2 linked regions of the Homo sapiens genome follow. The protein of the gene in region 1 interacts with the protein of each later gene in a biochemical or structural test. Each region holds a gene or a part of one and is shown in the gene's direction. Other genes may lie near its edges. The genes, in order: BST2 and LILRA4.

Evidence for each region.
Region 2: the proteins of BST2 (region 1) and LILRA4 form a complex in vitro, tested with the Homo sapiens proteins (2 studies listed by IntAct).

What each region holds. Positions count from the first base shown.
Region 1 is NC_000019.10:17,404,127-17,408,037, reverse strand, and holds the start of BST2 (bone marrow stromal antigen 2 precursor), read left to right. Parts: upstream 1-2,407; 5' UTR 2,408-2,462; coding exon 2,463-2,747; intron 2,748-3,600; coding exon 3,601-3,667; intron 3,668-3,848; coding exon 3,849-3,909; intron 3,910-3,911.
Region 2 is NC_000019.10:54,337,579-54,341,489, reverse strand, and holds the start of LILRA4 (leukocyte immunoglobulin-like receptor subfamily A member 4 precursor), read left to right. Parts: upstream 1-2,327; 5' UTR 2,328-2,396; coding exon 2,397-2,430; intron 2,431-2,588; coding exon 2,589-2,624; intron 2,625-2,809; coding exon 2,810-3,094; intron 3,095-3,254; coding exon 3,255-3,554; intron 3,555-3,793; coding exon 3,794-3,911.

The sequences.
Region 1 (3,911 bases):
CATACAGAGATAGGAGCTGAGGGGACATAGTGAGGTGTGACCAGAAGACAAGAGTGCAAGCCTTCTGTTATGCCCGGACAGGGCCAGCAGAAGGGCTCCTTGGTCTAGCGGTGACGCCAGCGTCTGGGAAGACGCCCGTTGCCCGAGCGGACAGTGGTCTAGCGGTAGCGAAAAGTGTCAAGGAACAACACCCACTACTTAGCAGACCGGGAAAGGGAGGCTCCTTTTCCCTGGGGGAGTTTGGAGAAGACTCTGCTCCTCCACCTCTTGTGGAGGGCCTGACATCAGTCAGGCTCGCCCGCGGTTATCTGGCAGCCTAACCGTCTCCCTGTGATGCTGTGCTTCAGTGGTCACGCTCCTAGTCCGCCTTCATGTTCCATCCTGTACACCTGGCTCTGCCTTCTAGATAGCAGTAGTCATTTAGTGAAAGTACTAAAAGTCTCTGATATGCAGAAATAATGGCATAAGCTGTCTTTCTGTCTGTCCCCTCTCTCTCTCTCTGCCTCGGCTGCCAGGCAGGGAAGGGCCCCCTGTCCAGTGGACACGTGACCCACGTGACCTTACCTATCATTGGAGATGACTCACACTCTTTACCCTGCCCCTTTTGCTTTGTATCCAATAAATAACAGCACAGCCAGACATTCGGGGCCACTACCAGTCTCCGCGCATTGCTGGTAGTGGTCCCCCGGGCCCAGCTGTCTTTTCTTTTATCTCTTCGTCTTGTGTCTTTATTTCTACACTCTCTCGTCGCCGCACACAGGGAGAGACCCACTGACCCTGTGGGGCTGGTCCCTACAGTAATTTTAAAGGGAAGAGCAACAAACTTTCGGTTTGCAGGGCTGGGACTGTTTACAGCTGCAAAATTTAGAGAGGACATCAATCTATTATTATCCACATTTTACAGCTGGGGAAATCAATGCTAAGAGAGGAAATTCATTTGCCCAGAGGTGCACCACCCTGGCCTCCAATGTGCAATTCATGCAATTGTGATTTCCGACCTGGTCCCAAACTAACCCTAAAGTTAGCAGGCCAGAACAGTGCTGCTCAAATAAGTCAGCTTAGTCAAATAAGTCAGGCAAAGGTCGTGTCTTTGCACCTGGAGTCCTGGCCAGGCTGGTAGGTCCCTCCTCCTGGGACAAGTTCACCCTCAGAATTTTCAGCAAGATCATCTCCCACAGCTTGTTAATTGGTTCTTGGTTCTAAGTGATTTTTTTGTTTATTGGTTTAAGAGATGGGATCCCACTCTATCACCCAGGCTTGAGTGCCGTGGCACAATCATAGCTCGCTGCAGCCTCAAACTCCTGGGCTCGAGTGATCCTCCTGCCTCAGCCTCCCAGCCTCAGCCTGGGACCACAGGCATGTACCACCATGCCTGGCTCTAAGTGGCTTTAATGGGGTCCTTCTGAGGGATGTTGGAGTCAGGGCCTGGGGGGAGTTCCCCAGGCCTTCTGGGAGGCCTGGGCTCTGGACTTGACCTCGCCTACTGTCTGGCCCTGCTGAAAAGAAAAAAAAACATGGAAATGGCAGACCTAACAGAATCTGGGCTGTGGTCAGGATGTGGCTGAAGAAGCCACAAGAAAAACATGCAGTCCCCTTTCAGCGGTCATGCCCAGCAGTTGGGTGCCGATAATGGGCCTGATTTCCTGTAGGAAGCCCTGGCTCTCTTGGCCACATGGACAGTGTCTGAGGCTGGCCCTGTTATTCCCCTTTGCAGATGAAGAAACAGGCTCAGAGAGTTTACCTGGTATCCTGGAGTCCCAGGAGCACTTTTTCTGGAAGTAGGAGCTTGTTTCCTGCAGGTGCCAAGACAGAGACCGACATTGTTTGTTGGCTGGGTCGGTCTCCCAGTTTTCAGCTGGCTCCAGTCTCACCTGTTGCTCACACACCCTCCATGTCTCCCATAGTCCCCTCGGTGGGGACAGAGGCACTGGATGAAGCCCTGCTCGTCACCACAGAGACACCTGAACACAAAAACCAGTCCCTGGGGTCAGACCCAGGCCCCGCCCCCAGACCCAGGCCCTGCCCTCACTCCACCACGCAACTGTGCAACCTCAGTTTCCCCAGGTGGAGACCGGACCAACAGTGATGGCCTCTGCCTCTTCAGGTCATAGTACAGATGAATACAGGCTGGCACGGCCTAGGCACTCAGTAACACACAGCAGAGGCACAGGGACTTAAGATGGAGTGTCCCAGGCAGCCACAGTTGGCTGGCACCCAGCTGGGAAGGGCCCAAGGGCTTTTAAAGCAGGGTGAAAAAAAAGCCCACCTCCTTTCTGGGAAACTGAAACTGAAAACCTAATTAATCCTCTGCCTGTAGGTGCCTCATGCAAGAGCTGCTGGTCAGAGCACTTCCTGGAACTTGCTATTGGTCAGGACGTTTCCTATGCTAATAAAGGGGTGGCCCGTAGAAGATTCCAGCACCCTCCCCTAACTCCAGGCCAGACTCTAAAGGGGAGATCTGGATGGCATCTACTTCGTATGACTATTGCAGAGTGCCCATGGAAGACGGGGATAAGCGCTGTAAGCTTCTGCTGGGGATAGGAATTCTGGTGCTCCTGATCATCGTGATTCTGGGGGTGCCCTTGATTATCTTCACCATCAAGGCCAACAGCGAGGCCTGCCGGGACGGCCTTCGGGCAGTGATGGAGTGTCGCAATGTCACCCATCTCCTGCAACAAGAGCTGACCGAGGCCCAGAAGGGCTTTCAGGATGTGGAGGCCCAGGCCGCCACCTGCAACCACACTGTGGTAAGCTCCTCAACTCCTTTGGATGGCCTAGTACTAGGCGGTGGGAGGGACAAGAATCTCTCCCCAGAAATCTGACCCAGGGTGGGTCTCCAGGGAGATGCAGGGGAGGTCCTGAAACTGCTCCTGGGCCCCCACATCAAGGGACCTAGGTTCCCCTACCAGGGTTTGTGGGCCCCTAACCCAGTCCAGGGCACTGGTGTAGGGGCAGGGTGTTAAAACTCTCCAGATCCCCCAAATCGGGGACCTCAGTATCCCCCTGGGACTTAGGTGAATTTATAAATTCTTTCCAGGGCACTGGTGTCGGGGGCCTTGAAACTCCTCGTGGGCACCAGTCCTGGGGGAGTAGAAATCCCTATTCAGGGTTGAAGGGGGACCTCACCAGACCCTGAAAAAGGGGGCTTTTGAAATTTTCACTTCATCCCTAAGAAACTGAAATATTCACCTGGGTCCTGATATGGGGGATCTTGAAACTCTCGCTGGGCATGTCACTTGGGCGGGGAAATCCCACTGCATTCTGGATTTGGTAGGGCCCTCTAACTTTTCTTGGGCCATTGCTCAGGCAATCTGGAAATGTCCACTAAACTTTGGTTATCGATAGCCTCCAAGTTTCCACGTGGGGTGGCCTCAAAACTCCCATTTTGAGGACCCACATGCTTATGGGTGGCCCTGGGAGAGTGTGTGGTTGTGGCTGTTCTTTAAGGTTGGAGACCATGGTGCAGAGAGGGTTGGAAGAAAACCTGAAAGGGGTTTGCATTTAAGCCCCTCTGTCCCCAGGACCTAGGGAGGAGGCCCAGGTCCCAGGGGCAGCAGCCAAACTCCCCAGGCCAAAACCCCAGATTCTAACTCTTCTTAGATGGCCCTAATGGCTTCCCTGGATGCAGAGAAGGCCCAAGGACAAAAGAAAGTGGAGGAGCTTGAGGGTGAGAAAGGGAGAAGGGAGAGGGCCGGGGAGGGGTGAGTCAGGTATGGAAGAGGGGGTGGGGGCAGGGAGACCAGGGCTGGAGGTTGGGGTAAGGGGGAGGTTCTGTCCCAGAGTGGAGCAGGGCCCCAGCATGGCCACATGCTGACCCGCCCCCTGTTTCTGTCCTCCCACCCTACCAGGAGAGATCACTACATTAAACCATAAGCTTCAGGACGCGTCTGCAGAGGTGGAGCGACTGAGGT
Region 2 (3,911 bases), about 37 Mb from region 1:
TGTTGATCCCGGTGGCCTCTGGGGGATGCTCGTTCAGGCTCAGCACAGCCAGAGAAGGCCCCAGACGGCTTCCCTCATGAAAACTCAAGTTGAGTGTGGATTTACTGCTTACAGTTTGCAGAACCTTGGAGAATCTGCAGAAAAAAACTGAGATAGGGCGGGAAGAATCTGGAGGAGCGGAGGCATGTTCCGGGTGAACAAGGTGCTGCTGCATTCAAGAGGACTATTATTTTTTTCAGGTACAGGGTGTGCAAGAACGAGTTAATCTCACAGCTGCAAGGGTGATAACGTTGGGAGAGTTTGCTTGTAAAGTTGGTCCTTAGCTGGCATCTAGTTCCTAAACATGGCTCCTGGAATGTTCCCTATGTTCCTAAGAGATAAGCTGGTGTTGTGTGACTGCAGCACTGAATTCTACTGTGTCTTGACTAGGCCATTTCCGCAAACAATGTAGCTCACTGTTGATGAGTTTGTAAAAAAAAAAAAATGCTGATGAACAGCAGCTTTTCCCTGGTTTCCCTGTGACTGACCATTATGCCTATATGGCCCCCACCTAATAACAACCTTGAACATTGAGTCTTAAGCAGGTTTGCCTGGAACCAACACTTCACATGCATTGCTACATTTTTTATGCTGATGGAATGATTAAGACAAGACATAGATTTTCACAGCTTATGACCAGCATTCTTGATCTTAAATATATTTTGGTAAAGTTTTTTTTTTCAAAAAGGTAAAAAAAAATTGCTCTTCTAGAAGGATAAAATGGACACAAGTTTTTATTTAGCTTACTATTAACGAGGGAACGGGAAAGATGTTAATACTGAATTCAAAGAAGAATCCATAGAGCAGACATTTAGGGGCTGGTAATGTTTAAGGGGATTCAAAAATGAGCCTAATTTTTGTTATTTTTAGTATAGAGACGGGGTTTCACCATGTTGGCCAGGCTGGTCTTGAACTCCTGACCTCAAGTGATCTGCCCGCCTGGGCCTCCCAAAGTGCTGGGATTACAGGTGCGAGCCACCGTGCCCGGCCATAGAATTGATTTTTAAGTGTGTTAATTCTACCTACTATTTTCACCACAGCCACATCTGCCTACATAATTTCTAGTTGTCTATCTCTTCTCAAATACACTGCATGCTGTCCATCTACCCCCATGCACATGATCTTACAAAGAACATTTCTCCCAGAGACGACTCAGAAATCAGGCCTGTCCAGAGCGGGTGGTTACAGCTGCTCCTGTCCAGGAGCATCAACTCTTCCAAACTTAGCATCTGCCCAAAGTTGTGGCTGGCAAGGCGGAGTCCAATGTGACCTCCCACTCACGTGTGGGACAGATGTCCAGGTGTGACAATACCACAGACAGCCTGTTTTTCACACACACACAGGGGAGATGGAGCCTCCTCCATGGGGAGGCTCTGAGAGGGAAGGAGGAACCATCAGTCCCTCTCACCTGGAAGGGGCTGAATCAAGAAGGCACCGGGTCTGTTTGCTGCTACATCCTGGCCCTTGGTGAGATGAGGACAGATTAGATAGACGCAGCCAAAGTGAGGGGAGAGCCCATTTCTGTCTGTAATATCTCTAGAGAGCCTGGTGTTCACGCCCAGGACAAGCCCTGGGGAAATGAGAGCCAAGCTCCTGGGGAGGGGCAGTTCCTCTTTCTGCCCCTCATGGCTCCCACAAGGAAGCAGAGAGATGGCAGTGCCCATGTGCAAACACAGAAGAGGGGCAGCCACAGCGTCTCACTTTCACCTGGAGCCCTAGGTTCCTCCCTGTCTGTGAGGACCCTGGACTTCCTTTTCTGTGCCACACAGAGATGGAAACGTCCTTTTTTTTTTTTTTTTTTGAGATAGAGTTTTGTTCTTGTTGCCCAGGCTGGAAGGCAATGGCGTGATCTCGGCTCACTGCAGCCTCTGCCTCCGGAGTTCAAGTGATTCTCCCGCCTTAGCCTCCCGAGTAGCTGGGATAACAGGCATGTGCCACCACGACCGGCTCATTTTTGTATTTTTAGTAGACACGGGGTTTTGCCATGTTGGCCAGGCTGGTCTCGAACTCCTGACCTCAAGTGATCCACCCACCTTGGCCTCCCAAAGTGCTGGGATGACAGCTGTGAGCCACAGCGCCCGGCCGAAAATGTCCTTCTTAACGACCCCCTTGTGAATCCCCATTTGTGTCTGAAATATCGGCAGAGAGCCTGGTGCTCACCCCCAGGACAAGCCCTGGGAAATGAGAGCCAGGGTCCTGGGGAGGGGCAGTTCCTCTTTCTGTCGGTGTGCTGATGGGACAACCTCGTGATGGGGAGGACCCAGCCTCCGTGTGCCCGCACACCATGTGTCTGTCTGTGTCTACGGGCACCGTGGCCACACCTGCCTGCACAGCCAGGGCCAGGAGGAGGAGATGCCATGACCCTCATTCTCACAAGCCTGCTCTTCTTTGGTGAGATCTTAAGAGGGGGAGGAGAGACCCTAGTCTAGGAGAGAGACCCCAATCCATAGCCATGCCTTAGTCAATTAGGGCATCCCAGGGGCTCAAGGAAAAGAAGAAGACCTGCTCAGGCTTCGGAGGCAAATCTCTCACAGGGAACTCTCTTCCAGGGCTGAGCCTGGGCCCCAGGACCCGGGTGCAGGCAGGTGAGTCTGTCCCCAGCTGTCCTAGGTCCCTCCTCCTCTCTGGGGACAAGGGACCACCCCTGGGCAGCTGGGGGTGAAGACAGCAGTTCTGGGCTGACTGATGGGGATGAGGGGGGTCCTGGGGCTGAGAGCTGGGATCTGAGGGTTGAGGACATCTTGGGACCTAACCTGTAATTTCCTTCCAGAAAACCTACTCAAACCCATCCTGTGGGCCGAGCCAGGTCCCGTGATCACCTGGCATAACCCCGTGACCATCTGGTGTCAGGGCACCCTGGAGGCCCAGGGGTACCGTCTGGATAAAGAGGGAAACTCAATGTCGAGGCACATATTAAAAACACTGGAGTCTGAAAACAAGGTCAAACTCTCCATCCCATCCATGATGTGGGAACATGCAGGGCGATATCACTGTTACTATCAGAGCCCTGCAGGCTGGTCAGAGCCCAGCGACCCCCTGGAGCTGGTGGTGACAGGTGAGAGGACACTCAGGGGTCCCAGCCCCAGGCTCTGCCCTCGGGAAGGGGGTCGGCTCTCAGCTCTCGAGGGGTCTCCCTTCTCACAGCCCAGCCTTGTAGGATAAGGTGGGAGGTGTGAGCCCCATTTAAACACGGCTGCCTTTTTTTCTCTTGAAAGCCTACAGCAGACCCACCCTGTCCGCACTGCCAAGCCCTGTGGTGACCTCAGGAGTGAACGTGACCCTCCGGTGTGCCTCACGGCTGGGACTGGGCAGGTTCACTCTGATTGAGGAAGGAGACCACAGGCTCTCCTGGACCCTGAACTCACACCAACACAACCATGGAAAGTTCCAGGCCCTGTTCCCCATGGGCCCCCTGACCTTCAGCAACAGGGGTACATTCAGATGCTACGGCTATGAAAACAACACCCCATACGTGTGGTCGGAACCCAGTGACCCCCTGCAGCTACTGGTGTCAGGTGAGGAAGCCGTAGCTTTTCCTTATACAAAGTCAGGGCACCAGGTGAGCTGTTGGGAGCCTTACCCTCGGGCTAGCCCACGCAAGAAGAAAAGATGAGGGGAAGATGGGGGCCCTGGGGACACAAATACAGAATGAGAAAAAAACAAGGACGCTGGAAACCCTAGTGAGGAAGGCTACAGAAGGAAGGGGCGCAGGAGGAACCAGCCGCTCCGAGTCCCAACTCATCTTTCCCTCCAGGCGTGTCTAGGAAGCCCTCCCTCCTGACCCTGCAGGGCCCTGTCGTGACCCCCGGAGAGAATCTGACCCTCCAGTGTGGCTCTGATGTCGGCTACATCAGATACACTCTGTACAAGGA